2 linked regions of the Homo sapiens genome follow. Changing the gene in region 1 together with any one later gene gives a genetic interaction. Each region holds a gene or a part of one and is shown on either strand. Other genes may lie near its edges.

Evidence for each region. Genes that interact genetically often act in the same process or in processes that back each other up.
Region 2: of GNL3 (region 1) and ATG10, changing one suppresses a phenotype caused by changing the other (phenotypic suppression), as found in Homo sapiens cells (one large-scale study listed by BioGRID).

The regions. Positions count from the first base shown.
Region 1 is NC_000003.12:52,690,315-52,694,997, reverse strand, and holds the end of GNL3 (guanine nucleotide-binding protein-like 3), read right to left. Parts: intron 4,407-4,683; coding exon 4,294-4,406; intron 4,261-4,293; exon of another isoform or gene 4,168-4,260; intron 4,054-4,167; coding exon 3,927-4,053; intron 3,621-3,926; exon of another isoform or gene 3,554-3,620; intron 3,457-3,553; coding exon 3,369-3,456; intron 2,263-3,368; exon of another isoform or gene 2,186-2,262; intron 2,127-2,185; coding exon 1,952-2,126; intron 1,812-1,951; coding exon 1,669-1,811; intron 1,591-1,668; coding exon 1,454-1,590; intron 1,367-1,453; coding exon 1,191-1,366; intron 962-1,190; coding exon 895-961; intron 806-894; coding exon 723-805; 3' UTR 501-722; downstream 1-500. Other genes in the region: GLT8D1 (glycosyltransferase 8 domain-containing protein 1), read left to right, coding at 1-153. UniProt on the Homo sapiens protein: May be required to maintain the proliferative capacity of stem cells. Stabilizes MDM2 by preventing its ubiquitination, and hence proteasomal degradation.
Region 2 is NC_000005.10:81,974,874-81,978,522, reverse strand, and holds part of ATG10 (ubiquitin-like-conjugating enzyme ATG10), read right to left. Parts: intron 2,331-3,649; exon of another isoform or gene 2,196-2,330; intron 195-2,195; exon of another isoform or gene 1-194. UniProt on the Homo sapiens protein: E2-like enzyme involved in autophagy. Acts as an E2-like enzyme that catalyzes the conjugation of ATG12 to ATG5. ATG12 conjugation to ATG5 is required for autophagy. Likely serves as an ATG5-recognition molecule. Not involved in ATG12 conjugation to ATG3.

The DNA of each region.
Region 1 (4,683 bases):
AAGGCTGCCAAGTTACTCCATTGGAATGGACATTTGAAGCCATGGGGAAGGACTGCTTCATATACTGATGTTTGGGAAAAATGGTATATTCCAGACCCAACAGGCAAATTCAACCTAATCCGAAGATATACCGAGATCTCAAACATAAAGTGAAACAGAATTTGAACTGTAAGCAAGCATTTCTCAGGAAGTCCTGGAAGATAGCATGCGTGGGAAGTAACAGTTGCTAGGCTTCAATGCCTATCGGTAGCAAGCCATGGAAAAAGATGTGTCAGCTAGGTAAAGATGACAAACTGCCCTGTCTGGCAGTCAGCTTCCCAGACAGACTATAGACTATAAATATGTCTCCATCTGCCTTACCAAGTGTTTTCTTACTACAATGCTGAATGACTGGAAAGAAGAACTGATATGGCTAGTTCAGCTAGCTGGTACAGATAATTCAAAACTGCTGTTGGTTTTAATTTTGTAACCTGTGGCCTGATCTGTAAATAAAACTTACATTTTTCAATAGGTATCTTCTTTTTTTATTCCAGATAACTACTTCCACTCACAATGAGATGAATTGTCTTTTTACAGAATTTAGGGATTCCAAGTTGCCTGGTTTTAATATAATACATATTCACAAAATTTACACAGCTCATGCATACCATAACTTATACAGAGAACAGTTTAGCAGTCTGCTTAAAATGTTAAAAAAAAAATCATAAAAAGCCATTGTTCTGTTACACATAATCTGTACTGAAGTCATAAGCATCATCCTCTTCAATGATTTTATCCAAGATAAAAGACCTTGTAGACTGTTCACCTATATTGCAGGAAAATAAAGAGATTTTCAAAAAGTAAAAGTGATTCTATACCATGCTGCTTCGTTAGAACCCCTTTTGCCTGCCTCACCTGCTGTAGTCTCCTCAGACAGTGCCTCCCCTGTCTCTTCTGCAGCAAACATGCCTGAGCTGTTTTCCTGTGTGACAAAGAAAAATAGTGCTGGATTAGTAGCCCTTGTCTGCTCATTTAATCCAAGTAGTTATGTACCTGAAAAATTAACTCTTTGGAGGTACATATAACGGGATGTGCAAAATTAAGGCTAATGGATCACAAGCCTCAAATATTTCCTATCTTCAGTTCCTTCCATTATGTATTATAATGCTAGAAAACTCACTTCAGTTTTAACTCATGGAGGACACACTTACATCAACTTCTTCATCAACAGTTTCCTGGTCACTGTCTTTGTCATCCTCCCTCTCCTCCTGCTTCCTTTCTTTCCGTTTTGGCAATTCTTCATGTATGTCCTTTTCTTCTATTATTCCATTTGTCAGACCGGAAGACTGGAAAAGGATGCTATTGGCCAAATGAGGGCCCTTGATGGCTGGGAAAGAAAGCAAGCCCATGTAAACAGGTAAGAGCTCCACTGGCCTGTCAGCTGATGAAGACAGCAGCGACACACAATTCTCACCTCTTATGCTCTGTGCATTGTTCTTTTCCAGTTCTTCCAGATTGAAGCCGCTTTTCATGTCTACCACAATACTCTCATTAAAATATGGAGGAGGAGTCCAAGATGTAGGGGGATGGCAATAGTAAGCTAATGAGGCACTGATATTAAAAATAAGATGTGTCAAAAGAAGGTTTATTCTAGTGGTCACCAAAATGCCAACAGAAAAGAAAGCTTACCCTGTCCACTCAGACCACAGCAGTTTGGCAGCACCTTCAACATTTGGGATTCCACCTTTTTGGTGCATACCTCTTCTCTGAGCAAGCACAGTAAAAAATTCCAGAGAATTCCTGTAGCCTGGGACAGTATATTTCAGTACTACCTTAAAAAAAAAACCAAACAAAGGAGCTGTCCTTCATCTGACATGCCAGTACTTTAAAACACTTCCAAGATTTTTCTACTCAAAATGCTTATGATGAAAGAAGATGGCTCCAAGGAGCTCATGAGAAGGGGTCCTTTTACCTGTCGAGCATCAGCCTGGGAAAGGATGGCACTGGCAGCCTCCATCGGTTTTACTACTTCAATACTTGCTGGACTTCGCAGAGCAAGCGCAGAGGAGGAATTAAGTGGAGATACGATGAAGCTCGGACTATCTATGATTGTGATCTGTTTGTCCAAGGGGACAACTTGCATGCTCCTGAAAGAAGAGCGATGGAATTGATGGGGGCATTGGTCTATTTGGAGGTTAAGAGACAGAACATGAAGCTCAGGGTTGGATTGAACAGACTCAGCACAGTCAGTCAGATCCAGTTTATCATCATTTGCTTCACATTTATCTAAAACTGTAACAGCATACCCGACTGTTCTAAAGAGAACACTACATGTTATAGCTTATATATTTACATCAACCAAAACACATGCTATTTCCTTTGCTATAAATATGCCACCTTCTGGCTGGGCGCGGTGGCTCACGCCTGTAATCCCAGCACTTTGGGAGGCCGAGGTGGGTGGATCACCTGAGGTCAGGAGTTTGAGACCAGCCTGGCCAACATGATGAAAGCCCTGTCTCTACTAAAAATACAAAAATTAGCCGGGTGCCTTTGATCCCAGCTACTCAGGAGGCTGAGGTTGCAGTGAGCCAAGATAGCACCACTGTACTCCAGCCTGGGAGACAGACTCCATCTCCCAAAAAAAAAAAATCTAAAAGTTGGCCAGGCACAGTGGCTCATGCCACCCAACACAAGTGTAATCCCAACACTTTGTGAGGCCTAGGCGGGTGGATGACTTAAGGCCAGGAGTTTGAGGCTAGCCTGGCCAACAGTGAAACCCCATCTCTATTAAAAATACAAAAACTAGCCAGGTGTGGTGGCAGACTTCTATCTGGCAAATTTCTATTAATTTCTCAAGGCCAGGTTCAAACATCACTTCCTCTGAGGGAGCTTTCCTCTCTCTCAATCTATCTGCTGAACTTGTCTTTCAAACTAAATTGTGGGCAGCTGTCCCACTCCAATCAGTTCTAGCACTGGCTTAAATCTCTGCTTTCACCAAAAGCTTTAAAAAATAAAAATAGGCCGGGCGCGGTGGCTTGGCCTGTAACCCCAGCACTTTGGGAGGCCGAGGCGGGCAGATCAGCTGAAGTCAGGAGTTTGAGACCAGCCTAACCAACATGGAGAAACCCGTCTCTATTAAAAATACAAAATTAGCCGGGCGTGGGGGCACATGCCTGTAATCCCAGCTACTCTGGAGGCTGAGGCAGGAGAATCACTTGAACCTGAGAGGTGGAGGTTGCAGTGAGCCGAGATTGCGCCATTGCCCTCCAGCCTGGGAACAAGAGTGAAACTGTCTCAAAAAAAAAAAAAAAAAAAATCACCTTCCTTGAGATAACCAAAATAAAATAGTGTGTCACTATAATATTACAATTATGGACACCTCCATTTACCTTGTAAGCCCCATGGATACACCAACATTACACATCTGTTCTTGTTTTAAGCTATTGATAATGCTGCTTTTCCCCACATTTGGGAAACCTACAAATAAATGGGAAATCCAGATATAAAAAGCATTATATGTTGGCACTTATGAAATTTTCACTGCCTAATTTTCCATTTCCCTGATGTTTAGGGCAAGATCAGAGTTGGATCTCAGTGTCTTCACTTCAATACTAAGACCAATTTTAGTTTCTTCATTTCTTGCACAAGTAATGCAAAGGCAGGAAAATACTATAAATTCAAACAAACCAAGAACTTTTAGAAACCAGCTTCCTACAGTAATCAGTCCCAACAAAAAACCTGAATCTGGCAGCAGTTGTGTAAGTTTTTTTCTTTAAATTGTGTGTGGTTATGTGCTTTCAGTAAGGTATAAGCAAGAAGCTAGTATTTGAGTGAGCCTTTTACTTGACAACAACTCCATACACTGCTGCTTGGGCACTTGGAGAGCTGGCTAAACTTCTTAACTATTTCAACACTTAAAAAGTAAAAAGTAATGAACTGAAACTCACCAATTACTCCAACCCGAATGGCTTTGCTGCAAGTTTCCTGAAAACCTCCAAGAAGTTTCCAAAGGCCCTCTTTCCCAAAGCAGACTTCACTTCTGAATGGAGCAGCATTCTTCTTTGCCTTCACACGCTAAAATTCCAAATAGTTGAATTATTCTGGCAACTTACCTGATAAATTTCAACAAACCCCAAGCAATCAGGCTCCAGAGCCCAGCTCTTAAGATAACTACATTGCCTTTCAGATGATCTCTGGCTGAAATCAGAGTTGGATCTTGTAATTTTTCATTCACTTAAATCAAGATTTTGTACACTCATCATATTTCAACCAAAATCTGAAAGAATCACATTTCTTACCACTAATAAAGGATACCTTGGTTATCTTCCCTTTATCCTTTGGTTTTGTTGAGGCTCTGAACACCACTGTTGGCAATTCTTTCTTCAAATAATTTAGCCAGCTCTCCAAATTCTCCTTTGGTACCAGATCTGATAGCAATTAGAAATAAGACATTTGCGGCCAGGCACGGTGGCTCACGCCTGTAATCCCAGCACTTTGGGAGGCCGAGACAGGCGGATCACGAGTTCAGGAGATCAAGACCATCCTGGCTAACACGATAAAACCCCGTCTCTACTAAAAATACAAAAAAATTAGCTGGGCGTGGTGGTGGGCACCTGTAGTCCCAGCTACTCGGGAGGCTGAGGCAGGAGAACGGCGTGAACCCGGGAGGTGGAGCTTGCAGTGAGCTGAGATGGCGCCACTGCA
Region 2 (3,649 bases), on another chromosome or scaffold:
CCACAGCTCAAACTCTCTTGCTGCCTTTGAACAGTGGGTAGTAGGACTAGTACAACAAACTCTAGTCAGCACATATGCCAAGTATCCAGAATTAGGAAATAAGGAGATAATGGGGTATCCTTGGCCAAAAGTATCCAAAAAATAAGAAGAGACAGAAAGGAGCAGTGGCTCATGCCTGTAATCCCAGCATTTTGGGAGGCCAAGGTGGATGGATCACCTGAGGTCAGGAGTTTGAGACCAGCCTGACCAACATGGTGAAACCCCATCTCTACTAAAAATACTAAAATTAGCTGGGCGTGGTGGCGGGCACATGTAATCCCAGCTACTTGGGAGGCTGAGGCAGGAGAATTGCATGAACCTGGGAGGCAGAGGTTGCAATGAGCTGAGATCATGCCATTGCACTCCAGCTTGGGCGACAGAGCAAGACTCCGCCTCAAAAAAAAAGACCAACACAATATCAGAAGCTACAGAATCAGTGCCAGTCTGAATACAGATTACAGAGCAAAGTGTCTTTAAAATATACTACCAAGTGCCATATTTTTATTTTGGAAAATAAAAAAAGGAAATGGTTGGACATTTTTGTAATGAAAGGCACATTCCCTTTAAATTTTTCTTCTTGCAAAAGTCTTTGTTCAGAGATGAGACTAATGTGCCTTCTATTTCCACAAGTTTTTCATTCATTCACTCAGTACCTACAATACCCTAGTGCTTGCTGTGAGTGTCCTCCTAGAAAAGAATGTCAAACTTCCTGGCAAAACTGGGGAAGACTCCAAAACTTGGAGTTCTGAACACATGAATTCAATTCTTGAAGAAATGAATTTTGAAATTTGAGTAAGGGCCAACCAGGTGGAGACAAAGTCACTCCAAAAAGATTGAGGAGCTCCTGCAAAGACAGGGTCTGAAAAGAATGCAAGGTTTAAAAATAAAACAAATGTCAGTGGATGGAGCATAGCTCGGGTGGAGAAGAGTATGGGCAAATAAGGTCTAATGGTTCCCAACTTTATGGGGAACCCGCTCTTCAAGGGGCTGCTTGGAAATAAATGGGATCATATTGGATTGTTAAAAAGAAGTTAGAGTTTGCCATTGCCATTTAGTGCTGAGGGACCAGGTAAAATAAACATCCTACAATGTACAGGACAATCCCACACAGTGAAGAGTTGTCTGTAAAAATGCCAGTAGAGCTCCCTTTGAGAAATACTGGGAAGTAGGTAAGGAATTAACAAAGTCTAGAGAATTTAACTCTAGGGCCTCAGCGTATCCTTTAAAATCTGTGATCACAATCTCCATTTCACTCACTAAATATTTACTAGGTGCTAAAAGATAAACCAAGGCACATTAAAATTTTAAAGGATTTATTTGAGGTCAGGCAAAGTAATCCTAGCACTTCGGGAGGACAAGGCAGGTGGATTGCCTGAGCTCAGGAATTCAAGACCAGCCTGGGCAAATGGTGAGATCCCGCCTCTACAAAAAAATACAAAAATTAGCCTGGCATAGTGGTGCATGCCTGTAGTCCCAGCTACTTGGGAGGCTGAGGTGGGAGGATAGCTGGAGCCCAGGAAATTGAGGCTGCAGTGAGCCATAACTGCACTACTGCCCTCCAGCCTGGGCGACACAACAAGATACTGTCTCAAAAAACAAAAACAAGAAAATGTTTATTTAAGCAGACAATGGTTAACCCATTTATGCTGGAGGTTGCAAATTTTTTTTGTGAAAAATCAGACCTTGGCGATGACCATGAGCAGGATATAAATAACTCCCACAAGCTTAGCGTTCCAATAATGGAACACTAGGCATATTAATGAATTGGTCAGCTCCAGAATGCAAGCAATATGGGGCTGCACCAAAAGGACACAGTTAGAAGGCTTTTGAAGAGTGAACGGCAGAAGCAAGGCCAAGAAAATCTGTGATTGGTCAAAGTGGAGTAGCCTTACTTGGATCATTCCAGTAAAAGTCAGTGGTTAGAGGTTAGTTGATGGTTTCTGATTGGTTAAGCTAAAGTTTCATTTTCCTAGAATACAACCATTTACACTGAGTTTGGTGTAAGTCTGTTTATGTAGGAACCCAGGGCACTGGAGCTTCCTCAGGCAATGGCCTCCCAATTAATTATTTTAACACAGGAAGCTGTTTTTGCTGGGCAATAAATATGTTTCCTTCTTTCCTTTGACCACCATGAAGCTTGGAACTTTGTGGCCTACCTTTAATAACTGTACAACAGGCCGGGCGCAGTGGCTCACGCCTGTAATCCCAGCACTTTGGGAGGCCGAGGCGGGCGGATCACGAGGTCAGGAGATCGAGACCATCTTGGCTAACACGGTGAAACCCCGTCTCTACTAAAAATACAAAAAAAAAAAAAAATTAGCCGGGCAAGGTGGCGGGCGCCTGTACTCCCAGCTACTCGGGAGGCTGAGGCAGGAGAATGGCGTGAACTCGGGGGCCGGAGCCTGCAGTGAGCCGAGATCACGCCACTGCACTCCAGCCTGGGCGACAGAGTGAGACTCCATCTCAAAAAAAAAAAAAGATAAAATAAATAAATAAATAAATAACTCTACAACATTCACAGTATATTTTCAGTATAACTCACCCTAATCACATCTTTCTATTCAAGCTTCATATTTTTATGATCTTGATTCTCTTTATTTTGTATGTTATTATATATTATATAGTTTAAGCTACCTCAAATACTTTTGGAACAAAATTGAGTTTAAATTTAAAACTCTAAGCTACAAAAGTACAATAAAAAACAAAAAAGAAAAAGAAAACTAGATAGTAAGATGGGAAGAAAAAAATATTACACTGAGCCCCCAAATCATCCTGAGAGGTCTGAGACACTTTTTTTTTTTGAGAGGGGGGTCTCACTATGTCACCCAGGTTGGAGGGCAGTGATACCATCTCAGCTGACTGCAACCTCCACCTGCCAGGCTCAAGCAATCCTCCCGCCTCAGCCTCTTGAGTAGCTGGGACCACATGTGTGCACCACCATGCACAGCTAATTTTTTGTATTTTTTGTAGAGACAGGGTTTTGCAATGTTGCCAAGGCTGGTCTCAAACTCCTCAGCTCAGGCAATTTGCCTGCCTCAGCCTCCCAAAGTGCTGAATCACAGGCATGAACCACTGTACCCAGCCTTGGTTTAAGAGACTTTCAAAAAGAAGTATAATACAGTCTTTGCCTTCAATAGTTTGTAACCAAATATTTTTTTATTTTTCAGAATACACATTCTTCTCAAAGTAATCAAATTTTTAAGTAAAGATTCACATTGAAAAGAACATCAGAGAATAATGGATAACAAAAAACAGTGATAAATTGTACAACCACTGTTTAAAGAATTAGTATGGATTAAAATAATTAAAATTGCATATATTACTATGTATTAAGAACTAGTAACAAATCCTCAGAGCAACTTTTTGAGGTAAATTACTAGGATTTTCTTTATTTTATAGATAAGGAAATTGAGACAGAGAGGGTAACTTGTCCAAGGTAACACAGCTGTTAAGTGTAGTAATTTGACCTAAGGAAGTCTGGAACCAGAGCCTGGGCCCTACAGTAGTTAGATTTCAGTTAATCCTTGAATTATAGGAGGATATAGAAAGAAAGAAATAGAAGGGATGGGGCAGTGGCAGTGAACCTTGGAACAGATTGAAATGAGGTAGA